Linked DNA regions of Homo sapiens. The main gene of each other region encodes a partner of the protein of the gene in region 3 in a complex. Each region holds a gene or a part of one and is shown on either strand. Other genes may lie near its edges. The genes, in order: CNOT9, CNOT11, CNOT2 and CNOT8.

What was found.
Region 1: CNOT2 (region 3) and CNOT9 share a complex: the UniProt entries of both Homo sapiens proteins name them as parts of the CCR4-NOT complex.
Region 2: CNOT2 (region 3) and CNOT11 share a complex: the UniProt entries of both Homo sapiens proteins name them as parts of the CCR4-NOT complex.
Region 4: CNOT2 (region 3) and CNOT8 share a complex: the UniProt entries of both Homo sapiens proteins name them as parts of the CCR4-NOT complex.

The regions. Positions count from the first base shown.
Region 1 is NC_000002.12:218,578,835-218,585,868, reverse strand, and holds part of CNOT9 (CCR4-NOT transcription complex subunit 9), read right to left. Parts: intron 5,309-7,034; coding exon 5,129-5,308; intron 4,860-5,128; exon of another isoform or gene 4,800-4,859; coding exon of another isoform or gene 4,755-4,799; intron 2,899-4,754; coding exon 2,783-2,898; intron 1,258-2,782; coding exon 1,148-1,257; intron 1-1,147. UniProt on the Homo sapiens protein: Component of the CCR4-NOT complex which is one of the major cellular mRNA deadenylases and is linked to various cellular processes including bulk mRNA degradation, miRNA-mediated repression, translational repression during translational initiation and general transcription regulation.
Region 2 is NC_000002.12:101,255,886-101,262,885, forward strand, and holds part of CNOT11 (CCR4-NOT transcription complex subunit 11), read left to right. Parts: intron 1-1,905; coding exon 1,906-2,070; intron 2,071-2,929; exon of another isoform or gene 2,930-4,156; intron 4,157-4,463; exon of another isoform or gene 4,464-5,987; intron 5,988-6,653; coding exon 6,654-6,806; intron 6,807-7,000. UniProt on the Homo sapiens protein: Component of the CCR4-NOT complex which is one of the major cellular mRNA deadenylases and is linked to various cellular processes including bulk mRNA degradation, miRNA-mediated repression, translational repression during translational initiation and general transcription regulation.
Region 3 is NC_000012.12:70,239,006-70,246,434, forward strand, and holds the start of CNOT2 (CCR4-NOT transcription complex subunit 2), read left to right. Parts: upstream 1-4,427; 5' UTR 4,428-4,475; intron 4,476-4,735; exon of another isoform or gene 4,736-5,317; intron 5,318-7,429. UniProt on the Homo sapiens protein: Component of the CCR4-NOT complex which is one of the major cellular mRNA deadenylases and is linked to various cellular processes including bulk mRNA degradation, miRNA-mediated repression, translational repression during translational initiation and general transcription regulation.
Region 4 is NC_000005.10:154,861,624-154,868,657, forward strand, and holds part of CNOT8 (CCR4-NOT transcription complex subunit 8), read left to right. Parts: exon of another isoform or gene 1-46; intron 47-1,583; 5' UTR 1,584-1,655; coding exon 1,656-1,772; intron 1,773-3,568; coding exon 3,569-3,762; intron 3,763-6,068; coding exon of another isoform or gene 6,069-6,111; exon of another isoform or gene 6,112-6,169; intron 6,170-7,034. UniProt on the Homo sapiens protein: Has 3'-5' poly(A) exoribonuclease activity for synthetic poly(A) RNA substrate. Its function seems to be partially redundant with that of CNOT7.

The DNA.
Region 1 (7,034 bases), on a different chromosome or scaffold from region 3:
GAAGTTTGAGACAAGCCTGGGCAACAAAAAGTGAGACCTTGTGTCTACAAAAAAATAAAAAAATGTAGCCAGGTGTGGTGGCATGTGCCTATGGTTCCAGCTTCTCAAGGCTGAGGTGGGTGGATTTGTGTGATCCCAGGAGTTTGAGGGTGCAGTGAGCCATGATCATGCCACTGCACTCAAGAGTGGGCAACAGAGCAAGACCTTGTCTCAAAAAAAAAAAAAAAAAATAAAATAAAAAATAAATTTCCTATTGTTCATTGCTAGTACATGGAAATTTAATTTTTTTTTTTTGAGTCTCCCTCTGCCGCCCAGGCTGGAGTGCAGTGGCGTGATCTTGGCTCACTGCAATCACTGCATCTCCACCTCCCAGGTTCAAGCGATTCTCCTGCCTCAGCCTCCCCAGCAGCTGGGACTACAGGCACATGCCACCACGCCCGGCTGATTTTTGCATTATTTTTTTAGTAGAGACTAAAAAAAAAGTAGATGAAAAAATTTAACTGGGTGAACTGACAGATTCATATTCCTGGAGTTATGGGAGAATTACAGGTTTTCAGAATGCTTAGTGTATTTGACATGCATATTCTTAGGGCATTTCAGATATACGAAGCATTCCGGTATTAGAAGTAAGACAAACAAACAAAAAAAGACAGTGGTGTGTGCCTGTGCCCATGGTCCCTATTACTTGGGAGGCTGAGGCAGGAGGATCACTTGAGCCTAGGAGTTCAATTCCAGCCTGGGTAACACAGCAAGACCCTATCAGAAAGAAAAGAAAAGAAAAGAAGAGAAGAGAAGAGAGAAGGGAAGAGGAGAAGTCCCAAATTTAAACTCTTATTCCTTTAATAATACTCTTTATATATTGAATCAAGTTCTTATGCTTTACTCTCCCTACAATTCCAGCAAATGTTTCCACATATATGCTGAATTTAATCCCAAATGTTGGATCTCAAAGTCTTATTAACAACACTTAGAAGAGTGCTTGATAGGAGTCATCATGTTCCTGATACTTATTGATTAGTGAATGAGACAACCTCAAAGACAAAAATGAATGACTGGTGTACAAAAATCATAACCGGCAAGACAAAACACCCAACTTAGACTACTACTGTGAGTATTTCAGGCTTGCAAAACAATTCTAATAACTTACCAATAACTCCAAGGCTGGTGAGCCGGAGATACTCAAAGGGACGTGTTTTGCTGACAGTGTGCAAAAAGGGGTACAAAAAAAGTGGGATGTGTGCTGCGAGAAACGCTGACCTGGAAGAAAACAATAATTACATTCACAGCCCAGGGTTGATTTCTAAGGATCCTGAACTTTCAAATTTCTAGGTGGTTAATTCTGTAAGGCCTTAACATTGTCAGAGCAAGGAATCCTTAGGAAAACAATGTTACTGGTCATTAGTCTCAACCAATGGTTCTCAAATGGGGTAAATTTTGCCCCCTGGAGGACATGTGGCAATGTCTGGAGACATCTTTGATTGTCACAACTCAGGATTATGAAGCACTATTGGCATCCAGTGGGAAGAGGCCAGAGATGCCATTAAACATCCTACAATGCACAGGACAGTCCTCTCCTGCCCTCTCCTTTCCATCACAAAGATTCATCCAGCCCCAAATGGTAATGGTGCCAAAGCTGAAAACCCTAGTCCAGATCACAGTGGTTAAGAAAACACATGATTTTCCCTGTAATCAGCAAAAAGTACCTTACAAACTGATTAACTTAAAATATCCAATTGTGGATTTTAAAAAATAGACCACAAAATGCTATTAAGTGTCCAAGAGATTGTCCTAGATTATCTCCCTCACCTATGACTGAATAATAGTATTCACAGGTGCAGTCGAATAAACCTTACAAACCAATACAACAAAACAAAGCAGCCATTATCAGGCTTACCTGCTATACTTTAATAAGCACATTCTTCTTTTTTTGTTAGGGCATTTCAGATACACAAACCATTCTGAAAACAGTTTAGTCAGGCAACTAATAAGGAAATCAGTCTATTATTTTATATTATTTATAGTTACACCTTGTAGAAGAGCCAACGCCCAAGATTTTTAACACTCAAAGTACTCTTGTGTTTTTGTTAAGTGCTTAAAAGTAATTTTCTTAGTAATTTCTCTAAAGCTGTGTAAGGTCAGTGCCAACCTAGCATACATATTTCATAAGGAAACTTGACAAAGAGGAAAGGCTTTAATAAGATGACTATTAAGTGCCTTTGGGGCCATAAAAGCCCACAAAGTAGATTCCTGAACAGGATTTCCCTTTTCTTAATTTTTTAGATATGACAGGTGGCAAAAATATTTTAACTTACATGCCAATTCTCGTCTATTATAGAGGCCGCCCAGAATGCTATGTTAAGAAGGATTCTGAAGTCAAATCTGGGTTCAGTGTGGGAAAAGTGCTGGAAAAATAATTACTAAACTCCTCTTATATGCCATGCACTATGCCTCACAGATGACATAGTGTCAATAACAGGTCAGGGAGTGAGAAGTAGCTGTATGCCTGATACCTTTCCTGTAATGTGAACACTGTTTCTTTAAAGTTCATTGGGTAAAAGTAAATAAGAATCCGGAAGACCAGGAGAGAGAGAGAGAGAGAGAGAGAGAGAGAGAGAGAGAGAGAGAGAGAGAGAGACACACACACACACACACACACACACACACACACACACACAAACGTTCTCTCTCTCTCTCCTCCATGCCCTTCCTTTTATTATTCAGAGAACGTTTAGGACCATATTCAATGTATATCTCCCCCAAGTGACTCACCCAAAGCATTTACCTGGTTTCTGGATGTGATGCTACACATTGCAGTAATGCCAGAGCATTGCAAACTCTGTTAGACTGGTGTGCTGTCAAGGTGGGTGGGTTGATAGATGGATAAATATTTACAATTTCCTAAAAAATGGAAATCAGCATCAGATGAATAAGGAATAACTAAAAATTAATTCCCATGGTAATAAAGCAAAAAAAAAAAAAGGCAAATAAAATAGCTCTTAATTCTGTGCATCTTTTAAGAACTCAGTCATCAAAGAGGGAGCAGAAATAATGCTCATATCCTTTCATCACAAACTTACTTGGCTGAGACTAGCTAAGACATTTCTACATTTGTCTCTAGGAAGATTTTTTTTTTTGAGACTCACATTTCTACATTTGTCTCTAGGAAGATTTTTTTTTTTGAGACGGAGTCTCGCTCTGTTACCCGGGCTGGAGTGCAGTGGCACGATCTTGACTCACTGCAAGCTCTGCCTCCCAGGTTCACACCATTCTCCTGCCTCAGCCTCCAGAGTAGCTGGGACTACAGGCGCCTGCCACCACGCCCAGCTAATTTTTTGTATTTTTAGTAGAGATGGGGTTTCACCGTGTTAGCCAGGATGGTCTCGATCTGCTGACCTCGTGATCTGCCCGTCTCGGCCTCCCAAAGTGCTGGGATTTCAGGCGTGAGCCACTGCGCCCGGCCTAGGAAGATTTCTGTGGAGGCAAATGTAGTCATCTACACTTCCTCTTATATTCTCCAGCTACTGAGGCTATCAGTTGAGGGATACTCAAATTTTTATAATTTTGCTAGCATCCTGCTTTAAGTTACAGTGATGAGATCACTGGCCAGAAAGTGTTAAGTCAACCACGGTGACTCATAAAGAAGTTTGAATTTGGTTAGGTAGTAACATGGTAAGGACATGAATCAATGGGTGGGGATATGTATAAACAGCAGTGAATATATGCACTATCTGTCAAAAAGTAATGATTTACTCAATACAATTCCATTTACATTTTTTTTCTTTTTTTTTGAGACAGGGTCTCACTCTGTCATCCAGGCAGAGTGCAGTGGCATGATCATGGCTCACTGCAGCCTCCACCTCCTGGGCTCAATTGATCCTCCTACTTCAGCTTCCCAAGTAGCTGGGATTACAGGAGTGTACCACCAAGCCTGGCTAATTTTTGTATTTTTTGTAGAAATGGTGTTTCGCCATGTTGCCCAGGTTGGTCTCAAACTCCTGGGCTCAAGCAATCCTCCTAACTCAGTCTGCCAAACTGCTGGGATTACAAGCATGACCCACTGCACCTGGCTACAATTTTCCATTTACATTATTTGTAAAACTTTTACATAGAAAAACGTTCCCATAACAAAGATCAGTTTCTTGGCTAAATGCAATAGAGATGGAATGTGAATTTACTTAAGAGTTGAAAAGTTAATCTAATTGTTAGGAATTTGGGGCAATACTTTAATGGATGATCATGCCACTACCTAGGTATTTTGGTATTGTTATTGTACCATATCAGTTAATTAGCCACCAGTGACCATTCTGGTTTGAACTGAACTTCAGTTATCTATTCTTTAATGTACAAGTGTACCCACCTTTAATACTACAGCTGTTATACCTTCAACATTTCCTTTCCAGGCCAGGCATGGTGGCTCATGCCTGTAATCTCAACATTTTGGGAGGCCAAGGTGGGTGGATCACGAGGTCAGGAGTTCAAGATCAGCCTGACCAACATGGTGAAACTCCGTATCTACTAAAAATTAAAAAAAAAAAAGCCAGGCATGGTGATGCAGGCCTATAATCCCAGCTACTCAGGAGGCTGAGGCAGGAGAACCACTTCAACCCGGGAGGCAGAGGTTGCAGTGAGCCGGGATTGCACCATTGCACTCTAGTCTGGGCGACAGAGCGAGATTCCGTCTCAAAAAAAAAAAAAAAAGAAAAACAAACAAAAAAACCCAAAAACCCATTTCTTTTCCATAGAATATATTGTACCTTGTGGTCCTTATACTCTACTTTCCACCTTCCTCCCCCTGTCATGTAGATTTATCTTACAGTACTCCTAAAGCGGTGTTCGTCAAAGCGTAGTTCTTAGATCACTTGCATCACAATCACCTGGGGGAGGTGAAAGTGCTTATTAAAATATAGATTATAGGGCCCACCTCAGACTGACTAAATTGAATCTCTTGGGTAAGGATCCAAGAATCTGCATTTTAACAAATACCTCAGACCTTTCTAAAACAGATTCTTACAAATGCAGTTTTTTAAAGAATCATCCTCCTAAAGTCTTCAAATCATTTGGGCAAAGGTAAAGAAATATACAAGTGTAATGAAAAGAACTGAACTGCCAATCATGGACATGAACCCACCTGTAAAAGTGCTGCAATAGTACCAAATGAATGCCACAGCATGGGTGCAAGGTCAGGAACAGATTCTCGCTTCTTACTTAGCTCCAGCAAAGCATTTTCCCTAGTCTCAGGACTGGACAGCTCATTGATCCACTGATAGATCTTTTCTCTATCCACTTGTGCCAGTGTAGTAGGCACAGGCTTCAGATGAAGACAAGAAAGTAAATATCAGTTTATTAGAGTCAAACCAAGTCTTACCCTGCAACAGAGTTTTAGAGGAAATATATTTTTCATGAATACCAGGGGAGCGTTTCTAAATACATACATTTGATGTCAACTATTCAATCTCTTTGGTAGTTACTGATGAAAATCTAAAATGCACACATACCCTTTGATAATTCCATGTTTAGGAATTTATCCTGTAGGTATAATTGGGCTGTGCTAAAGACATACCAGGATGTTTACTGTTGCACTGTTTTAAAAGCAGAAAAGTGGCCGGGCGCGGTGGCACACCCCTGTAATCCCAGCGCTGTGGGAGGCCATGTTGGGTGGGTCACTTGAGGTCAGGAGTTTGAGACCAGCCTGGCCAACATGGCGAAACCCCGTCTCTACTAAAAATACAAAATTTAGCTGGGTGTGGTGATGGGCGCCTGTAATCCCAGCTACTCAGGAGGCTGAGACAGGAGAATTGCTTGAACTTGGGAGGTGGAGGTTGCAGTGACCCGAGATAGCGCCACTGCACTCCAGCCTGGGCGACAGAGCAAAAAAAAAAAAAAAAAGCCAGGTGTGGTGGTGCATGCCTGTAGTCCCAGCTACTCAGGAGGCTGAGGCACTAGAATCGCTTGAGCATGGGAGGTGGAAGTTATAGTGAGCTGAGATTGCACCATTGCACTCCAGCTTGGGCGACAGAGTGAGACTCTGTCTCAATAAACAAACAAACAAATAAATAAATAAATAAATAAATGCAGAAAACTGGGCCAGGCGTGGTGGCTCATGCCTGTAATCCCAGCACTTTGGGAGGCCAAGGCAGGTGGATCATGAAGTCAGGAGATTGAGACCATCCTGGCTAACACGGTGAAACTGGTGTCTCTACTAAAAATACAAAAAATTAGCTGGGCGTGGTGGCAGGCGCCTGTAGTCCCAGCTACTCTGGAGGCTGAGGCAGGAGAATGGTGTGAACCCAGGAGGCGGAGGTTGCAGTGAGCCGAGATCGCGCCACTGCACTCCAGCCTGGGTGACAGTGTGAGACTCCGTCTCAAAAACAAAAATGCAGAAAACAAACAAGTATCTCTCACTAAGAGACTGGTTAAATATTGGTGCAGCTTTATAATGTGATACTATGTAGTCCTTTAAAAAAAGAAGCAGCTCTCTATATACTGTATATTGATACTAAGTAAAAACAATAAAAGGGTTACAGAAGAGCATATAAAATGTTTCCATTAATATACACACATATAAAAATAAAAAATACATATACATTCTTACACATTTACATATAACATTTCTAGAAGGACACATAAAGAACTGTTAACTGTAGTTACCTCTAAGGTTGGGGATTTACAGGGAGACTTACTTTTCATTGTTTACACTAAAACCTTTTGCATAAACTTTTTTTAAAAAACCATATGCATATAATAGTTTTTGAGAGGAAAAAAAATTATGCCTTCCCAATACTGGTCCCTCCCCAGTGATTCTGACATCCCCCCTCAACTGAGCAGAAAACCTGTAATTTGGAAAAGCTCTCCCTCTTAATGATTCTTCAGTATATTCTCTAACTACATCCCTTTGAGAACCATTCATTACTTACTCATGTAGGAAATACATACTTAATAGGGCATGCTTTCATTATTATGCTAAAGAATCACAATATTCCCCCCAAATTTGAATATTTTATAATTCTCTATAGTCATCAAATATGTTTGTGACC
Region 2 (7,000 bases), on a different chromosome or scaffold from region 3:
CCAGCACTTTGGGAGGCCAAGGCAGGCAGATCACTTGAGGCCAGGAGTTGGAAGCCAGCCTGGCCAACATGACGAAACCCCATCTCTACCAAAAAATACAAAAATTAGCCCGGCATGATGGTGCACTCCTGTAATCCCAGCTACTCAGGAGTCTGAGGCAGGAGAATTGCTTGAACCTGGGAGGCGGAGGCTGTAGTGAGCTGAGATCGCGCCACTGCACTCCAGCCTGAGCAACAGAGTGAGACTGCCTCAAAAAAAAAAAAAATAGTGTAGAAGTTGAGGGATTTTGTGCAACCGGGGTGTAGGGTACATGGATGGGAGAGAAGGTCAAGAAGTGAGATTAGGAAGGTGTGGTGGGACCAGATTTTGAAGGGTCTTGTAATGGTGTAGAAATCTGGGTTTAATTCTGTGTACACAGGTTAAGTAATGTGATCAGATTTGTACTCTAGAGATATAACTAAATGGTAAGAGGAAGTATGGACTATGGGTGGTGGGTGAGCAGGGGTCAAAACTGGGAGCTGGGGAAGTCAGTAGAGGGGGCAGGAGTAGTCCCAGCAAGAGAGGCGTGGGGACTACATCTGAGGGAATGCAGCCTGGTGACATTTCTGCAGTGGGAGAGATGAGGCTTCATGAGCAATTAAACATGGGACAAAAGGGAAGGAACATTCAGCCTTGTGGGAATTTGTAGCTGCATTGTGTGTTGAATCAGGTAGTGTATTTGGATAGCTGCTGGTTGCTCTTCTATTTATTCAACTTCTACACAGTGGAAACAGAGAAGAAAGAAAAGCATTTCCGAGCACTATAGTGTTGTCTGTTTTTGTTTGCATATATAAGCTTTAGCCTTTGCAGGAATTGAGGCACTTTAGAAAATGCAGTTATTGGGCCAGGCGTGGTGGCTCACGCCTGTAATCCCAGCACTTTGGGAGGCCGAGGTGGGTGGATCTCGAGGTCAGGAGATCAAGACCATCCTGGCTAACACGGTGAAACCCTGTCTTTACTAAAAAGTACAAAAAATTACCTGGGCGTGGTGGCGGGCGCCTGTAGTCCCAGCTACTCGGGAGCCAGAGGCAGGAGAATGGCGTGAACCCAGGAGGCAGAGCTTGCAGTGAGCCGAGATTGCACCACTGCACTCCAGCCTGGGCGACAGAGCGAGATTCCATCTCAAAAAAAAAAAGAAAAGAAAATGAAGTTACTAATGTGAGAGTTAAAGAGGAAAGAAACACCAGGCGGGGCACGGTGACTCATGCCTGTAATCCCAGCACTTTGGGAGGCTGAGGCGAGTGGATCACCTGAGGTCAGGAGTTCAAGACCAGCCTGGCCAACATGGTGAAACCCCGACTCGACTAAAAATACAAACATTAGCTGGGCATGGTGGCAGGTGCCTGTAATCCCAGCTACTTGGGAGGCTGAGGCAGGAGAATCTCTTGAACCCGGGAGGTGGAGGTTGCAGTGAGCCAAGATCATGCCATCACACTGCAGCCTGGGAGACAAGAGTGAGACTTCATCTCAAAAAAAAAAAAAAAGCCACAAAACGCAGCTTGGCAGTCAAAGACAGATTTTCTTTAGTTAGAACCTGAGAAGCACTCCTGGCCGATGTTTTAACTAAAGAAAACCTGTCTTTGACTGCCAGGCTGCGTTTTGTGTTTCTTTCCTCTTTCTTTAACTCTTACAGTTAACAAGTACAAAAACCTTAAGTTTCATTTGTAGGGCCACAGATCATAGAATTTCAAATGACATATTACATAGTTTGTAAATGTATATATTTGGTTGACTGAAACTTAATCATAATTTAGTTCTTAAAACTATGTGGCTTGAAGTGGCAAGTAGCAAGTACTGATTTTACCAGATTCAAGTTGATTTTTAAAAGTAACCATTGGAGAAATCGTTATACATTTTTGTTTGCAGGATTTTTACCTCCTATAACTCCACCAGAAAAGTTTTTTCTTTCCCAGCTGATGCTGGCACCCCCACGGGAACTCTTCAAAAAGACGCCTCGCCAGATTGCACTGATGGACGTTGGAAACATGGGCCAGTCTGTGGACATTAGTGGGCTTCAGTTAGCCTTGGCCGGTAAGGAGGAATCAGTGTTTTGGGCATTTCTGTGTGGTAATATTAGGCCTCTCTTGTTGAGGACTCTACTAAAATGATGTTTTTTGTAACTGCTAAAAGGTTAGTATCATCCATTTTAAAAAGTAGTTTTAGTACTGGATCTTAAATGGAAGTCTTGGCTGGGCACGGTGGCTCACACCTGTAATCCCAGCACTTTGGGAGGCTGAGGTGGGCAGATCATTTGAGGTCAGGAGTTTGAGACTAGCCTGGCCAGCATGGTGAAACCCTGTCTCTACTAAATATACAAAAAATTAGCCAGACATGGTGGTGCAGCACGCCTGTAATCCCAGCTACTCAGGAGGCTGAGACAGGAGAATAGCTTGAACCCGGGAGGTGGAGGTTGCAGTGAGCTGAGAACAAACCACTGCACTCCAGCCTGGGCTACAGTGAGACTCCATCTCAATAAATAAATAAATAAATAAATAAATAAATAAATAAATAAATGGAACTCTTTAAATTTTTGGATGCTAATAGCATGTAAATTCATTTGGAGTTTTCACTTGAATTGATTGCTTTTTCTGTTTTAGAAGAAAGCTGGATAAAATTTAGTGGGTTTTTTTTTAAGTTTTGATTGGAAGACTTACTATTTGTTAAAATGTCAATACTACCCAAAACAATCAACAGATTTGGTGCAATTCCTGTCAAAATTCCAACAGTGTTTTTTGCAGAAATAGAAAAATCCGGCCAGTCACAGTGGCTCACACCTGTAATTGGGAGGCTGAGGCACAAGAATCACTTGAACCTGGGAGCTGGAGGTTGCAGTGAGCTGAGATTGTGCAACTGCACTTCAGCCTGGGTGACAGGGCGAGAGTCTGTCTCAAAAAAAAAAAAAAAAAGAAAAATCCATCTTTAAACCAAAGAAAGGCTGGCATAGTAGCTCATGCCTGTAATCTTTGGGAGAGGCCAAAGTGGGAGGATCGTTTGAGGGCAGGAGTTCAAGACTAGCCTGGGCAACATAAGGAAACTTTGTCTCTGCAAATAATTAAAAACTTAGCCGGGCGTGGTGGTGCATGCCTGTGGTCTCAATTACTTGGGAGGCTTAAGTGGGAGAATCACTTGAGCCTGGGAGATCGAGGCTGCAGTGAGCTGTGATTGCGCCACTGCACTCCAGCCTGCACAATATCGTGAGACCTGTCTCGGGATGCTGAATAGCCAAAACCCAACGTTCTCTTGGCATCCTTGTTGAAAATCATTTGCCCATATATGCAAGGGTTTATTTCTGGGCTTTCTATTCCATTCTATTTGTCTATATGTCTGTCTTTCTGCCAGTACCACACTGTTTTGATTACTGTAGCTTTGTACTAAGTTTTGAAATCGGGAGGTATGAGACTTTCAACTTTGTTCTCGTTCAGGATTGTTCTGGCACATTCTGTGTTAAACCTGTAAGCAAATGAATGAGTGCTCTTGAAGTAAACAGTGTGTCCTGACAGAAAATAATAGGAGAAGGAGAACTGGTGGTCAGAGAGAGGCTCTCTGAGTTCTGAAGGAGTAGAGGAGGCACTTTGGGCTTGCCTGCTGTCAGCATTCATTTTCTCACTTGAGAGCAACTCAACAGGGAAATTGTAATATGTAGCTGGGTTTGTGAACCCTTGACTTTGTAATTAAGTAAGCTGAAGTATTTTGACAATGCCCCATCCTTCTTAGACTTCATAAACCTGTGACATTTGGCTTCTGATATAAGGTGACATGTTGCAGTAAACAGCTTTTCCTTTGCAACATTGTGAACCTTTAAACTATTGGGTATTAACAATATAACAATGGGGCCAGGCACAATGGCGCATACCTATAATCCCAGCAGTTTGGGAGGCCAAGGCATGAGAATCACTTGAGCCCAGGAGTTTAAAACCAGCCTGGGCAACATAGGGAGACCCTGTCTCTACAAAAGTAATTAAAAAAATAAAAATTACCTGGGTATGGTGGTGTGTGCACTTGTGGTCCCGGCTACCCAGGAGGCTGACATAAGAGGATCACTTGATCCTGAGAGGTCAACGCTACAATAAGCCATGATTGTACTACTGCACTCCAGCCTGGGCAACAGAGTGAGACCCTGTTACAAAAGCAGAGACAAGAACAATGTAACAATGGTTATGTTCTGAAACCAAAAGAAATCTTTTTAAGACTTTTTAAGGTTGTACTAATAAGTACAAAAGTACTAGCCACTAGTGCCAGATATAATTTAATAGAAATAAAATGATTACTTTTATTTATTCCTGACAAACACCAAAGATACTTTGAAAACTGGATACAGAAGTGATGTATTCTGATGGTTCTAGCTTAGTATTTATTATAATATTTATTTATAGTATTTAAATAGTAATTTTTTTTATCATAATAAAGTGAGAATCACATCTGACCTTCCTTTTAACTTGGGATGCCTTGAGTAGCCGTAAGAAAGTTGTGAAGTATATCACGTGGAGGAAGGATCACATGTCTAGAGTAAGGGCTGAGAAGCCTGGCCGAGTGGCTAAGCTTGCTGCCTGCCGTCCTCTACCCAGATTGCAGATGTCCGGATCCATTCCTCTTCACAAGTGTAAAGAAAAAGCAAGCATGCCTCCACTCTGGAGCTAGCCACCCAGATCTTCTCTCTGGAGGTCTAAAATTCAGATGTCTTCCAGTGGCATCCGTGGACCAAAGGTGTATTTTTGGATGATGCAGTTTGTGTTTTCTTAACTTTAAAAAAACAAGTAGACAAGTTAAACATAAGTGACTACAAGGGGTGAAGTTTTACCCTAACAATGAGTTTTCATTTCAGAGGTTTTGTTTTTCTTTATGATTTATTCCTGACAAACACCTACCACTTACTAGTTTACCAAACAGCTGGCCAATTTATCTTTTTTTTTTTTTCACATTTTGGTTGATAATATGTTATCTAACTTTTTGTACTTCAACAATCTGAGATTTTTTTAAATGGCATTACAGGATAATTTTAGTGAGCATTTCTCCTAGTAAGTGGATGAGAAAAGATGCTATATGTCTAAGGCATCTTTTCATATGTCTCTGGCCATTTTTCCATTGGGTTGATGGTCTTTTATTGATTTGTATAGTTCTTTAATCAGGAATTTAGCCCCGTGTTTTTAAAATTACACAATCTGAAGTGAAACATGCATTCACTTTTTAAAGGAATTATAATTAAGTGAACCAGGAGCAACCTGCCATCCAAGTTAAGAAAGAGAATATTTTCAGGGCCTACAGGCTCCCTGTTTCTCCCAGTGGCTGCCTCATCACTAACCTGATTTTTGTGATAATCATCCTCAATTTGCTTCCCTCCTGTGCCTGCCTATAGTTTCACTTTGCATGCCCTTGAACTTTATACATGTGGAATTGTACTGCATTTATTCTCTTGTGCCTTCCTTCTGTTGGGGGTTGACAGATGAGTCCATGCTGATGGCGTGTAACTGCAGTGGCTGCCCTTCATTGCTGCTGTGGTACCTTCACACTGTGGAGTACCAAGTTCTGTGTCCATTCTGTTGTTGATGGACATAATACTGCTGTGAACATTCTTGCACATTATTCTGGGGCGCGTGTGAAAGTGTGTCTCCTAGATGGAAAGAAATGCACATGTAAACATTATAAAGAAACATCAAATTATTTTCCAAAGTTGCTTTGCCATTTTTCACTCCTGTAGCACCATGCAAGTTACCTTACATCCTCTTCAGCATTTGGTAATGTCAAGTTTATACATTTTTGCCAATCTGGTGGGTATGTTATAGTATCTTGTGTTTTAACTGGATTTTCCCTAGTTCCTAATGGGATTAAATATCTTTTCAGATTTTTTTGGCCATTCAAGCTTTTTAAACAAAATCCTTATTAAAGTTACTAGTCCATTTTTTCCTGTTGGTTTCTTTCTTTCTTTTTTTTTTTTTTTTTTTTGAGATGGAGTCTCGCTCTGTCGCCCAGGCTGGAGTGCAGTGGCGCGATCTTGGCTCACTGCAAGCTCCGCCTCCCGGGTTCATGCCATTCTCCTGCCTCAGCCTCTCGAGTAGCTGGGACTACAGGCACCTGCCACCATGCCCGGCTAATTTTTTGTATTTTTTTAGTAGAGACAGGGTTTCACCGTGTTAGCCAGGATGGTCTCGATCTCCTGACCTCGTGATCTGCCTGCCTCGGCCTCCCAAAGTGCTGGAATTACAGGCATGAGCCACTGCGCCTGGTGGGTTCTTTCTTTTTTTAAAACATTGATTTAAAAATATATGTACAGTAAGTCATCACTTAACATCACTGACGGGTTGTTGGAAACTGCAGATTTAAGTGAAGTGATGTACAGCAGGTCCTTGAATAACACTGTTTCATCAACATTGTTTTATTATAACATTGATAAAAATAGTTGTTTTGTTACACGTCACTTCACTTAGTGGCAGATTCCAAGAACCTTTCAACAACGCTAAGTGAGGACCTGCTATACGTACAGACATACACACATTTTCTCTCTCTCTCTGAATCTGGCCCTTTGTTTTTCTCTGTTACAGATAGCTTGCCTCAGTTGGTAGCTTGTCTTTTCTCTCTCCTCATGATGTCCATAATTTTAAAATGTCTCCTATTTCCAGAACGCCAATCTGAATTGCCAACGCAAAGCAAAGCGAGCTTCCCCAGTATTCTCAGTGACCCAGACCCGGATTCTTCTAATTCTGGATTTGACAGCTCAGTTGCCTCTCAGATCACAGAAGCTTTAGTCAGCGGACCAAAGCCACCTATTGAAAGTAGGTACATATAAATTAATTTATACTCTTTGTTTTATTCTGTCAGCAGGATCCTCTAGGACTTTTCAGTTTTTGAGACATCATTTTATTTTTATTATGACTTAAATTGTAATTTAGTGTGAATCTTTCTAGTGTAGTGAGTGTCTAGAACATAGTAGAGATGTTCAGTGACAGTTAATTTCTTCTTTAAGAAA
Region 3 (7,429 bases):
TTTGTATTTAGTAGAGACGGGGTTTCACCATGTTGGCCAGGCTGGTCTCAAACTCCTGGCCTCAGGTGATCCACCCGCCTTGGCCTCCCAAAGTGCTGGGATTACAGGCATGAGCCACTGCACCCAGCCTGCTTATGACACATTTCTAAAAGAATCGCTGGGTCAAATGCACATGGCTCAAGGCTTTTGATACATATTGCCAAACTGCACTCTAGAAAAGTGCTGCCAACATACACTCTCAGCAATATAAGCAGCCCTGTTTCTCTGAATCCTTGCCAGTATTATCAAGAAATAACCACTTGTTAAAATAGTGCCTGAAGACTAAATTAATGTTTAACATGTTTTGTCACTCATAAGTTGGGCTTACTATTAAACTTTTAACTGTTATAGTATTACCATTCAAAGCTTACACATATTTAAGATGAAGAAACTGAGGTCTAGTAAATTATAATTCAGACCCCTTTTAGTGTGAATTTTAGCCCTGGATATACTGCAGTGCAGTCTTTTTTTTTTTAACTTGTACTAGCCTTACAGATTTCCCAGAAAAAGGTAGACATCTTCTTTATTAAGTTGGAGGTCAGGAATATCCTATTAGTTTAGTACTGTTTTTCCTGTTTCCTAGATTGGATTTTACAAATTTTGTGTTAAGGATATCTGTTGACATTTACTCATTTATTATTTAAAAAGTCTAGCTAATCTTGGATAAGAATTTTGTTGATTCATTCACTCACTAATTTAACAGCATTTATCTAATGCCTACCATGTGTGAAGGATAAAGTAGTGGAAAAAAACAGGTGTAGTTTATATTTTTGTAGGGTGAAGGGAGGTAGAAAATAAACAGTGAATAAACAAGATAATGATAAATTATAAATGCTATTAAGAAAATAGAGGGGCACGTGATTGACAGAGAATAAATGGGAACGTGAGCTATTTTAGATACGGTGGCCAGGGAAGGCCTGTCAGAGATATTTGGGTTAACCTGAAGGAAGAGAATGAGTCAGCCATATCCAAGACAGAAGACCACATCCCAGGCAGAAAAAAAATAAATAAATAAAAAATAAAAAGCAAGTGCAAAGGCCCTGAGACAGAGTATCAGGTAAGATTAAATTCAGTTGAGAACAAGAGACTCCAAAATAGTGGCTTTAATAATATAGACATTTACGACTGCAGGGCTAGCATGGTGCTCTGATCCATAAAGTTCTCACAGACCCTGGTTTCCACCAGTTTAGTTTTGCCATCCCTAGAATGAGAGAACTTGCATGAGGCACAAATTGGCAGCTACAGTTCTAAGCCATCACATCTATATTCCACGGTACAGGATAAAGGAAAAGCCGCATTGAAGGTGTGCACCAACTATCTTTTAAGGATGGTTTTACAAGTGTGCCACATGATATACTGCTTACATCCCATCAGCCAGCACTATTACATGGCTACAAGGAAGGCTGCAAAATATAGTCTTTGTTCTGGGTAGCCATGTATCCATGTCTATTACTATGAAAAAAATGGAGGAATTTTTGGGGACAACTAACAGACTCTGCTACAGACTAGAAAAAGCACAGCCCACGACAGAAAGGAGGCAGTAAGAAGGGTGAGAACAACTTCCTGTGCTGCTTCCTGGGAAGATGGAGAAGTGGGCAGGAGCCAGATTATGCAGTCTTGAAGGCTATGGTAAGGAATTCCGATTTCATTCTGTGTGCATAAGGAAGCTATTGGAGGGTTTTAAACAAGGGAGTGACATAACCTAATAACATTTTTTAAGTGATTGCTTTGGTTGGTATATAGAGAATGGTTTAAATGGGAAAATATTCATGAGGGTACAGATAGAAAGTGATAGCAACTAGTGTGGTTATTGCTGTGGTCCAGCAACAGATGATGGTGGCTCCCAAGGGTTGTACCAGTGGAAGTGATAAGTAGCTAAATTCAGAATGTATTTGTCAGGAAGAACTGATGGTACTGTCTGATGAGTTGTATGAGTGTGAAGAATCAGAAAATTCCAAGTTTTATGCCTGAGCAAATAAGTGAATGGTGGTACTATTTATGAAAATCAGGAATTCTAAAGGAGCAGCAGATTTAGGGAATGAACAAAGGGGATTCAAATGTTGTTTCAGACACATTAGAGAAGCCTGTCCTTTTTATCCCTTGCCATGGCAAAATTTTCAATACCATCCATATTTTTCTAAAAATGGGTGGCCTCCTTCTTCTACAAGTTATACACAAACTCATTCTTCCCTTAATAGGGTATTTTTTTTCCCTCAACGTCTGTAATTTTTAAATAAAGTGTACAGAGAATTTAACATAATACATATTTTGGAAATATACAAAACATGTGCCTATTAGTAAGGACTACTTTTCAGGTAAAAGTAAGAAAATCTAGTAAGATAGTTAAAAGAAACCAAACTACCAAATGGGCAAACTTAATCAACATTACCAATAAAGATGAACTTTTTGATGCAACAGGACAATTTAAAAAATATACCATCTATTGGTAAGAACTCTTACTATAAGAATTCTTACTATACAAGCCTTTAACAAATGCTAGCTCATTAAATACCTAGAGTACCCTCTAAGGTAGGTATTAAAAATTTTTTAACAAATTTATAATAGATTTGGCACAAATAATAGGACAATTAAAGGCTTGTTCTTCAACCCGGCTTAAAGTGAATTCATCCTAAACAAATAGGTGTTCAGTGAGAGTCAAAGTAAGTAGTATCAAATATTGAAAGTAATAGTATCAGTGTATTTTCTCCTAACACTCCTAACCCACACATTTATTATGAAAATGTTTGTTGTTCTATCTCTTCCAGTAAAATACTCAAGGTAATAAAACTCTCATATCAGACTTACACCCTCTGGAAGTCATTCCATAGAGGTATATTCAATCTTTTAACACACCATCTTATGGTTGAAGATGTTAACATGAGAAGGAGGAGAAAGCAGGAAGAGGAAGGGACTATTTGCAGAAGACGGGGAGAAAGAAAGGAAAGACACTAGTATGTGTTGTTCCTCCTCGAATTTTCCTGAAGTGAAAAAAAAACAGTGAAGTAGAGTGTTTGATGAAATGAATAACCAAGCAAAACATTTTCTACCTACACCAGTACCACTAGGAGTTGAAATAAATTCACACAATGTCTGCTGATATGTCAAAACACCTTACCTTCAAAAACATGACAGTTACCTTTTATTTTATAGTATGCTTGTGTTTCTTCCTATTTCTTGCTTTTGACCTTCAATGATAAATGTAAACTGGATTACAGTGATTCTTTTGTAAGTAAAAGGTGACTTTTTAAAAGAAACAACCAATGGAAATAGAAATTTTATTTACTTCAAATTAACTGTACTTTACTCAAATAGAAAAGAATAATTTTCACATTATGAAGCTACACAATTCCAAAATACACATGCTGAGGCTCTTTTTAAGTCCGAATTGTCTAGTAATTACAAAAAAGTGAAGAGTTTACAGATATACAAGGAAATAAAGGCGAATTATTGCAAAGAAAACAAGTTTAATTTCACTTTGAATGACAACGATTTTTCTGGAAAGCAGATACTTCACTCCTTTAAGTTTCCACCCAAGCCACAATAATTTCAAACGGTCTTGCGGATGACCCAGCTGGTCACTCTTGTTTATGTGGGGACTGGAGGTAATGAGAGCCAAAAAAAGTGCTATAAACCTAATTTGGCTAGAGCAAGTTCACACGACACGACCGTGCTTTAAAAACTTGCTCTCCATTATGTACTTCCTTCCATCAGGTTGGGGAAAAAAAAATGGTGGGGATGGTGAGTAAACACACCAGTGGTTTCATCAGAGGGGAACTCACTACTCAGGAGGTGACGGTGACGTGGTGCCGGTCCCTGAAGTACGCGCACAAGCTCCGGAGGTTGCGGGAGCTGAGGGAGGAAACAGGGACACGATCAGATTCGCTCCAGGTGGCGGGAGTGAGGAGGGGAGGAGTGACGAGGCGGACGTGCGGGGGCGGGGGTGTCCAACACAAACACAAACACAAACACGAACACGAACACGCTCAGCGTCCCCGGGGAGGGCGGACTGAAGCCACCTCACCATTCATCGCCCCTGGACCCCGCAGTCCCCCTCGGACTCAGGGCCAGAGCCTTCTGCGAAGCAACCTAGCCCCAGGGAAACGGTAGCGGCCGCAGAAGCCCCGCTCTCTGTAACGGCCGCGGAGGAGCAGCAAGCCTCCCTGTGAGTCGGTGGGAGACAAGACGGAGCGGCGGTAAGGGCGGTAGGGAAGTGAAGCGCCTCTCTCCACCTTGTTAGAAGCGCGCTGAAAGCGGCCTGCCTACCCACCCCATCGCTGCCGTTTTGCAGTCGTCGCTCCCACCTTCCGCTGCCGCCTGGAGGGAAGCCGGAGCGACGGGGGTCACGGCGGCGGTCAGAGGGTAAAGGTCTTGCTCCCAGCAGCCTCCGCGGTGGATACGTCGCCATCTTGGATCCGCGGGACAAGAAAATTCATGCGGTGAGTTTTTGGTAAATTTTCGGAAGTCTGGCAGCGGGGCGCGCGGCGGGGGCGGCAGATTCGGGGCCCCCGCAAGGCGGGGGAATGCCCCGGGGCCGGTCCGGTCGCGCCCAGGGTCCGCCGGTAGCGTCCCGGCCCACCGCTTCCCGTTGCTTTTGTCTCGGCTCCAATCGAGAGACGGAGAGCGGAGCGGGCGGGGAGGGGGGTGGCGGCGGTGGAGGGAGGGAGGGGGTGTGTATGGGGGTGGTGGTGGACCGGACGTAAAGCGTCGCTGTACTCGGGCCGCTGCAGCAGCAGCAGCTCCAGATCCTAGGCCCGGTCCCATCCGCGAGTGGTGGGGCTTCCCCAGACTCCACTCCCCTAGGCTCCCGCCAGCGCGGAGGAGCCGCTGCCGCCGCGCTGCTTCCTGGGGGAGAAGAGAAGGCGGCAGCGGCCGTGGCCGTGGCCGACGAGCTCGAGCCCGCTTTAGACGGCTCTGCCGCCTTCCCGGCAGCTGGTGCTGTCTGTGGCTTCTTACCTTCTCTCAATACACGTATATCATCTGCCAGTTATGTGTATTTCTGTTAGTGTGTTTGCAAGTGTCAGATGGGAGACACTGGACTGGCTAACGGGTGTCAGGATCCTGCAGGCCCTGGGATACCGAAGGCTGTGCATGGTGGAGGGAGAAGGAATGCAACTGCGATGCCGCCTCTGCCACCGCACCAGGAAGGTGAAGCTTCCGTAGTGTCGTAGACTGAGTCCGGATGATCCTGGGGCGGCGGAGGAACCACAGACGCTTCTGTCTGTGAAGTTGCAAGTCCTGGGTTTCTACTTCCGCAGGGGCCTCTCCACCTTTTGCTGTCGTAGGTCTCGCTTAAAAGTTTAACAGAAGAAAAGAGTAGGGTTAAAAGAGGCCTTTGTAGTTCTTCATTGAAGCACTGTTGTCTGTCCGGGTGAAAGCTGATAACTCTTGGTAACTGTGGTCCTTAGCAAAAGAGAATTGGAGTTTTCTTTTATACAAAGTATTTCCAAGGTTTTAGACCTTATATTTATTCCAGGCCTGTAGGTACGGTATTACTACCACAAAAGTCTTACATTAAGGGTACCACCCTCTCAGAGGGAACCTAAACATCAACTTCCTTCGAATCCTTGGAGACATCTTCACTTTTCAACATCCGGAAGACTGAGTGCAACATATTTTGTTTCATTTTCATAAAAGTCTTGGTCAGAGAATCCCACTCCTTTTAAAATCGTTTGGGCAATTCCTCATAATTAAGTACACTGCTTTGAACCCTTAGTTCTTGGCGAAATGGTAAAAAGTACTCAGTTAAAATCAGTTCACGAGGGAGGCCAACTTGAATTTAAGGTTCAAAGTTGAACATATTTAGTGTCATGCTTAATATTAGGAATTTTTAGAGCTCGGAATCATAAGTGTGACTGTTGATTTCCCTTTTGAAGCAATATAAATGGAAAGAATAAAGTATGGGGTGAGGGATGAGATAGAAATTTTAAAGTATCCATTTACATGCAAGGTTGATGTTGAGTTTGGGAATGCTTGGCATAATTGACAACAGTTCTTTCCAAACGTCAATGAATAAATCTCACAATTTTGTAAGGTAACTATTGCAGATTGAAAGGGTTAAGAATCATAGTTGGCTGAAATGGTTAAGTGTCTATATTCACATCCCAGTTCATTGAAATGTTTTATAATGGACCAAGATAATTAGTAAGCTCTGTATGTTGAATTTGTTTAGTTTGTAGTTCTATTATAATGTTAAATCTAAAGAAAAAAATACAAAATACACTTAAAGACAAAACATGTTCCACTCTACTCACTTATTTCTTGACTTTGTAAGATCCTTACTGTAAAAAAGGTACTTTTCTCTCATATTTTCTGAGAGCTTGAATTGTAATAATTTTTGTGAATACTTTGTATTTTAGAGAGGAAGTGAGAAACTGCTGAAGTTTTTTTTGCATCTTGATTAGTGCTTTATCAATACAAATAAGTTAATGTAAACATTTGTTGGCAGGAATCTTTTTCTAAGTATACAATGTAGAGATATCTGTAACCTAATCTGATCTCAGGGAATGAGAATTGCCTGTTTAACCAAGCAACAAATACAGCCTATACAATTTTTCAATTTCTATAATACTTTAATTTACATGGTGGAAAAATGAGGGCAAAATGCTTGTGTATGAGTGATTTATATCCCCAAGTACCTGCTCTTGAAGATAAAACTCAGATTGTGGCTTATCTTCTGATGCTGGGCAAAAAACAAAAACAAAAAAATTCAGAATGATACAACTTCCCATATACCTCCCTACAAGAACTAATTACCTTTGTTTTTGCTTTATAACTTTGGATGTTGCACTTTTTGATTTTTCAGAGATGCTTTACAGTTATTGTAATCTGAAAATTATTTGTTCAAAAGTAAATAAAATTTTCAGGTGTATGAATAGATTTTATTAGAAGTGATTCTAACCCAGTTCTCATTTGTATTCCTTTAGTAGATACTGGTGTTAAAAGTACCTGTATTTTGAAAGACCATTACAGAATTTTTTACAACCTGTATAAGTTATAGTTTTATCTTTTCTAGTGACAGACTTACTTCATAAGATTTTCTGATAATATGAATAAAATGTATGCTTCACATGTATATATGAAATAATGAGTAAGCATTAATAGACCAATGAAAAGAACTTAGCTTACAATTTATTTTCTTGCTCTTTAAAAGCAGTGGTAAATAATAGCTTTTTTTTGTTGTTAAAATTTGTAACTGTAGAAAGTTCATTCTGTTGGGATCACATATTTGAAGGCAAACTAACAATGCCATGTGCTTGCTTGAATAGGCATTTGAGGACAGGTTATTTTCCTGAGATTTCAGGAAAATATACCACCAAACATTTATGATGTTATTTGTTACCTGGATCTGTAGTGGATTTTGTAACACAAAGAGGCAGAATATCCAGGGTAC
Region 4 (7,034 bases), on a different chromosome or scaffold from region 3:
AGCCCACTATTGTGTTGTGGATCCATGCAGTGGGCTTGCCTTAGAAGTAAGTGCCTTTATGATAAGCTCTTTTTTGTTTGTTTGTTTGTTTTTGAGACGGAGTCTCGCTCTGTCGCCCAGGCTGGAGTGCGGTGGCGCGATCTTGGCTCACTGCAACCTCTGCCTCCTGGGTTCAAGCGATTCTGCTGCCTCAGCCTCCCGAGTAGCTGGGACTGCAGGCGCGTGCCACCACAGCCAGCCAACGTTTTGTATTTTTAGTAGAGACGGAGTTTCACCGTGTTAGCCAGGATGGTCTCTATCTCCTGACCTTGTGATCCGCCCGCCTCGGCCTTCCAAAGTGCTGAGATTATAGGCGTGAGCCACCATGCCCGGCTTTTTTGTATTTTTATAACCAGGCCTTGTACGTTGTTTGCCATAATAATAACAGCATTCGTCAGAGACCCAATCATGTTGAATTTTTTTCTCACAGAATACTTTCCCCTCCCTGATTTTTCTCCTGGAAAATACACCATGAATCATTCTGTTTCTGGTTGAATGATTTACACCAGCCATCTTTAGTCCTACTGTTGAATTGCTGCATAGTTTCTTTTTAATTTATGTGTTTAAAAGTAAATACTGGCCGGTGGATCACAAGGTCAGGGGTTCAAGACTAGCCTGACCAATATGGTGAAACCCCATCTCTACTAAAATACAAAAAATAGCTGGGCGTGGTGGCGTGCACCTATAGTCCCAGCTACTTGGGTGGCTGAGGCAGGAGAATTGCTTGCACCCAGGAGGCAAAGGTTGCAGTGAGCCAAGAGTGCACCACTGCACTCTAGCCTGGGCGACAGAGCAAGACTCCATCTCAAAAAAAAAAAAGTAAATACTAACTAAAATTCTGATTTGCATTGTGGTTTTTAGGGTTCAGATTAGCAAGTGGGATTGTTTTTTAGCACTTAAATCCCTCACTTCATGCTCTGTTTGCACAAATCTAAAGAGGCACTGGTATGTCTAAAGAGGCACTGGTATTGTTTATTACCTCTAGTTGTATTTGACTTTGGGATTGTAGAGAAAAATAATTTCCTTTTGTGGGATGGGGGAAGAATCCCATGCCAGTATTCATCATATGGGTACAAAGGCTTGAGTGTGAGAGTTTAGGTCCACATTCTTTCAGGTTTTCAGAGATCTCAGGTACATTGAAAATGGCTAAGATGATTCCTGTAGGACTGTTTCCATGATTTGGTCTCTGTGCAAAGTGATGTGAAAGTCATGGATAAGGGCATATTTGTGGTAACGGAATTATTTTGGTCTAGTCTACAGAGAGCTGAAAAACTAGGGTAGTGGTTTCACTTCTGTGGCAGAGGACTGCTGGGCAGAAGTTTCAATAACTTCAGTTTCTTCAAGAAAGAACTGTGTGTGTGTGCGTGTGTGCATGTGTGTGTGTGTGTTGACAAAGTTTCTCCATCATATAAAATGGAGAATAAATATAATCTTAATGTTTTAAACTAATGAAGTGATTGTAAAATATTATTTTGATGTCTTTGTTGTGTTGACATCTTATGTGTGTGTAAACTTACATGATTTTAAAATGTTTTACAATCTAGATCAGACCAAACATTGTCTGGCTTGCACTGTAAAACTAGTTAGCTGAAGACGACTTCTCAGGTTTCTTCAGGATGCCTGCAGCACTTGTGGAGAATAGCCAGGTTATCTGTGAAGTGTGGGCCAGTAATCTAGAAGAAGAGATGAGGAAGATCCGAGAAATCGTGCTCAGTTACAGTTATATTGCCATGGTAAGGAGCTCTACTCTGACTCACCTTCTTTGTCACTTTTAAAGTTGGGGTCTTGCTCTGTTGCCCAGGCTGGAGTGCGGTGGCTATTCACAGATGCAATCATAGCTCACTGCAGCCTTGAACTCCTGGGCTCAAGCAGTCCTCCCACCTCACCTTTCCAGGTTGCTGGGACTGCAGGCTCATACCACTATGCCCAGCTTGACTCACCTTCTTATATGGATGGGTTTAGGGAATGTTTAATTTGAGATTTTGAAAAGAATGGGTATGTTCCACTAAAGCCATTGTAAATTAAACCGGATGGAAGGTTGTGTTGCTTCATGAAATATCAAGGTAGCCAGTGTCTCTGAGAAGGATGTAACCTCTAGTATCTTAGATTTTTTATAACATTATTCTGTTTGAAAGTCTTTAAAGCAGAAGTTACGTCATCCCCTAGGGCCCAGCTGTTCCACAGATATGTTGGATTTGACTATACGATGTTAAGAATTTTAAAAATTTATTGCCAGCATTTAAAAGTCAATAGAACTCACTTGAATTCCAGATTTCTGGCATCTCTGAAAAAAAAAAATAGGAAGATCTGGCAATATCTGTTATCCACTCCTGCCTGACACTGGCTGGAGAGAGAGATGAGTATTGTGGTAATATTAAGGGCCTCCTGTAGACGGGCATGTGCTCTCTGTTTTACTCCAGTCCCGATTACTTGTACTATTTTCATACCTAGCTGACTTTACTCCTTTACATTAGCTGCTTGGAGTTTGTGACTCCTGCTTTAGAAATTATAGAGTTGGCCGGGCGCGGTGGCTCACGCCTGTAATCCCAGCACTTTGGGAGGCCGAGACGGGCGGATCACGAGGTCAGGAGATTGAGACCATCCTGGCTAACACGGTGAAACCCTGCCTCTACTAAAAATACAAAAAATTAGCCGGGCATGGTGGTGGGCGCCTGTAGTCCCAGCTACTCGGGAGGCTGAGGCAGAGAATGCGTGAACCCGGGAGGCAGAGCTTGCAGTGAGCCGAGATCGTGCCACTGCACTCCAGCTTGGGGGACAGAGCGAGACTCCGTCCCAAAAAAAAAAAAGAAATTACAGAGTTAAGTCTTTAGCTTGGTATTCAGAGCTCCTTCCAGTCTTTTCACTCAAGCTAAGCCTGTCTCTTTATATTTTTTTCTGAATGGCTGTTTCACTTCCCTGTATTTGTATTTTTATTCATATATTGTTCTCTACCTAGAATGTTCTTAATTGACTGCATATCTACCTGTAGTTACTCAACTCTTTCTATTGACATTCTGCTTATTTAGGATCAAGTTGTTGTGCAAAGCTTCATGATTTTAGTGCTTCTTCAGTAGATACCAACAAGATCAGTATTTTAAGATAGGATTTTGGCTGGGTGTGTTGGCTGATGCCTGTAATCTGTGCACTTTGGGAGGCCGAGGCAGGTGGATCACTTGAGACCAGCCTGGGCAACATGGTGAAACCCCATCTCTACAAAAAAATACAATAATTAACTGGGTGTGGTGGTGTGCACCTGTAGTTCCAGCTACTTAGGGAGGCTGAGGTGGGAGGATTGATTGCACCTGTGAGGTTGAGGCTGTAGTGAGCTGTGATTGTGCCACTGCCCTCCAGCCTGGGTGACAGAGACAGACCAACCCTATCTCAAAAAAACACAAAAAGAATTTTGTGCCCAAGTTTGGGGCTTGCCACATAACTTTTATAAATGGAGGTAAAATTTTATTTATGAATTACCAATTCAGCATCCACTGTTTTGTGAAACCTTGTGATGAGAGACTTTTTCCTTTTCCAGGACACAGAATTTCCAGGTGTTGTGGTGCGACCAATTGGTGAATTTCGTAGTTCCATAGATTACCAATATCAGCTTCTGCGGTGCAATGTTGACCTTTTAAAAATTATCCAGCTGGGCCTTACATTCACAAATGAGAAGGGAGAGTATCCTTCTGGAATCAATACTTGGCAGTTCAATTTCAAATTTAACCTTACGTAAGTGATTTCTAAATAAATGCGTTAATTTTAAGTTTTGTTTTCACTGAATCCAGGTGGGTGTTGGATAGAGCGGTCAAGCAGAGGACGGAACAGGGAATCTCAGCAAGTGAAGTCCTGCTTAAAGAACTGCAGCAGCTCAACAATGAAAAGATAAACAACCCAACTAAAAATGTGCAAAAGATAGACTTTTCTTGAAAGATAATGTACAGATGGCCAGTAAGCACATGAAAAGATGCTCAACATCATTAGTCATGAGGGAAATGCAAATTAAACCCACATTGGGATACCACTTCACACCCACTAGAATGGCTATAGTCAAAAAGACATAATAAGTGTTGTTGAGGGTGTGGAGAAAATTGGAACCCTCATACATTGCTGCTGGGAATATAGAATTTTGGGGGAAATTCTGGAAAATAGTTTTGCAGTTCCTGAAAAGGTTAAACATAGAGTTGCCATATGACCTAGCAATTCCACTCCTAGGCAGTGGAAAATTCCATGGTATGTATATACCGCATTTTGTTTATTCATCTGTTGATAGACACGTGGGTTTTTTCTACCTCTTGACTGTTGTGAATATTGCTGCTATGAACATGGGTGTGCAAATATTTCTTCAAGGTCTTGCCTTCAGTTCTTTTGGATGTATGCCCAGGAATTTTCAAAGAAAATTTCGGGGAGACTGTCATTTTGCTGATTGCATAAAATGATGTTAGTGTACTTCCTATTGTATCCTGCTTTGTTTAACTGGGCATCGGGAGTGTTTCATGATTTAGGAGTAATCTTTTTTTCCTGTCAATACAGGGTCTCGCTTTGTCACCCAGGCTAGAGTGCAGTGGTGCTAACATGGCTTACTGCAGCCTCAATCTCCCAGGCTTATCTGATCCTCCCACGTCAGCCCCCTAAGTAGCTGGGACTACAGGTGCACGCCACCATGCCCAGCTGATTTTTTGTAGAAAGTGATCAGCCCGCTTTGGCCTCCCAGAGTGTTGGGATTACAGGTGGAGCCATTGTTCCTGGAAGGAGTAATTTTTTTTATTGTTGTTCGTATGTTTTGGAAATTTCCTTGAGGTTCAAGTAATTTTGGGAGATCATCTGGATCTTTCCTTTAACTGCATTTTTTAGTTTATTGTCAAAGCCTGTAGTTTGTACCATAAAAATAATATAATACAAGGAAGAAAAATGAGTTATTTCACTGAGTGGTTTGGGTATGTTTGGGTTTAAAATAATGTTTACTTGCAGCCGGGCGTGGTGGCTCACGCCTGTAACTCCAGCACTCTGGGAGGCCGAGGTGGGTGGATCACTGGATCACTTGAGGCCAGGAGTTCAAGACCAGCCTGGCCAATGTGGTGAAACCCCATCTCTACTAAAAATAAAAAAATTAGCTGGGTATGCTGGCAGGTGCCTGTAATCCCAGCTACTCAGGAGGCTGAGGTGGGAGGATCACTTGAACCTGTGAGGTGGAGGCTGCAGTGAGTCGAGATTGTGCCACTGCACTCCAGCCTAGGTGACAGAATGAGACTCTGCCTCAAGAAAAAGAAAAAAAATAATGTTTACTTGGGATTGAAGCCTAGTTATAATAAGCAAAACAAAAAAAAAATGTTTATTTAAGTGGAAAAGAAACTTGTGATTCATCATTGGTTTTAATTTAGTGGAAAAAAATCAAGATTGCAGTGGTTTTCTTATTGTCTAACCCAAGTTTATATGAAAAGCAAGTGAAAGTCTAGTGGAACAGGAGTCGTTTAGCTTATTTCCTTACTTTTGTATTACATGGTATTATAAATAATTCCTGTGGTTGAATTAATGGATATATCTTTAGAGTGGAATATTATGACAGTGTTACAATGGATGAGTATTGATTTGTAAAGATGGTCTGTGATGTAGAGATGTAAGGGATGTAGGTGTGTATGTGTAGATAGAGAAAATAGTCTGGAAAGATCTGTAAACAAAGGTATTGGATCTGTGGGGTAGCATTATACGACCATTAATTTTTTCAGTTTTTTTCATGACAGAGTCTTTTAGATAATCATCTGTATACCAAGTAATAACATGTTACAAGTTATTTAATTCTGTCATCTAGTAATTTTGATTAAGAGAAACTACAAGTAGCTCAAACAATTACACTAGTATTCATTGTTTGAACCATTAGCAGGAATAGACTACTTTAAGGCTGGCTGTTGCTTCACGTGGGTTACAAATAACTATTTGCTACTTTTTCATAGATAAAGCCCCTGACCTTCATGGAAGCATTAGGGAAAAAGAAAACTTAATTTCTTTCTTTCTTCAAAGAACTTTTTTCCTTTCACTAGATATAAGAAAGAAAAAGTCAACAATAATACATGTGTTGCTTGAGCTAAAAGACATAGGAGAACAGACAACACATACCCATTACATTTCTAGGAAATACGAGGTAAAGAGAAAAAAAATTTTTAATGTCTTTTTTAAAATATAAAAGCTTTAGTTAAGTTGTAAGTCTGTACAAAGAAGCTAGATTTGCTACTCTCCAAGAAGTGAAGGGACCTGCTATGTAATATACAGAAATCATTTACTTCCTTTCCTTTTCTTTTTTTTTGAAACAGAGTCTTGCTCTGTCACCCAGGCTGGAGTGCAGTGGCACAATCTCAGCTCACTGCAACGTCTGCCTCCCGGGTTTAAGCAGTTCTCCTGCCTCAGCCTCCCGAGTAGCTGGGATTACAGGCGCCCACCACCATGCCTGGATAATTTTTGTATTTTTCTAGTAGAGACGGGGTTTCACCATGTTGGCCAGGCTGGTCTCGAACTCCTGACCTTGTGATCCGCCCGCCTTGGCCTCCCAGAGTGCTGGGATTACAGGCATGAGCCACCATGCCCCACCTATTTACTGCCTTTTCTTTTTCTTTTCTTTTCTTTTTTTTTTTTTTTTTTGAGGTAATGTCTTGCTTTGTCACCCAGGCAGGAGTGCAGTGGTGCAATCTCGGCTCACTGCAACCTCCACCTCCCAGGTTCAAGCAATTCTCTGCCTCAGCCTCCTAAGTAGCTGGGATTACAGGTGCCCACCATGCCTGGCTAACTTTTGTATTTTTAGTAAAGACGGGGTTTCACCATCTTGGCCAGGCTTGTCTTTAACTCCTGACCCTCGTGATCCACCCACTCTGGTCTCCCAAAGTGCTGGGATTACATACAGTTGTGAGCCACCGCACCCGACCTATTTACTTCATAAGAATATAACTTGAGCTTTGCCAAAGCTTTATGTTCCCTGAGGGCATCTAAAACGCCAGTTCATGGAACAGGCACTT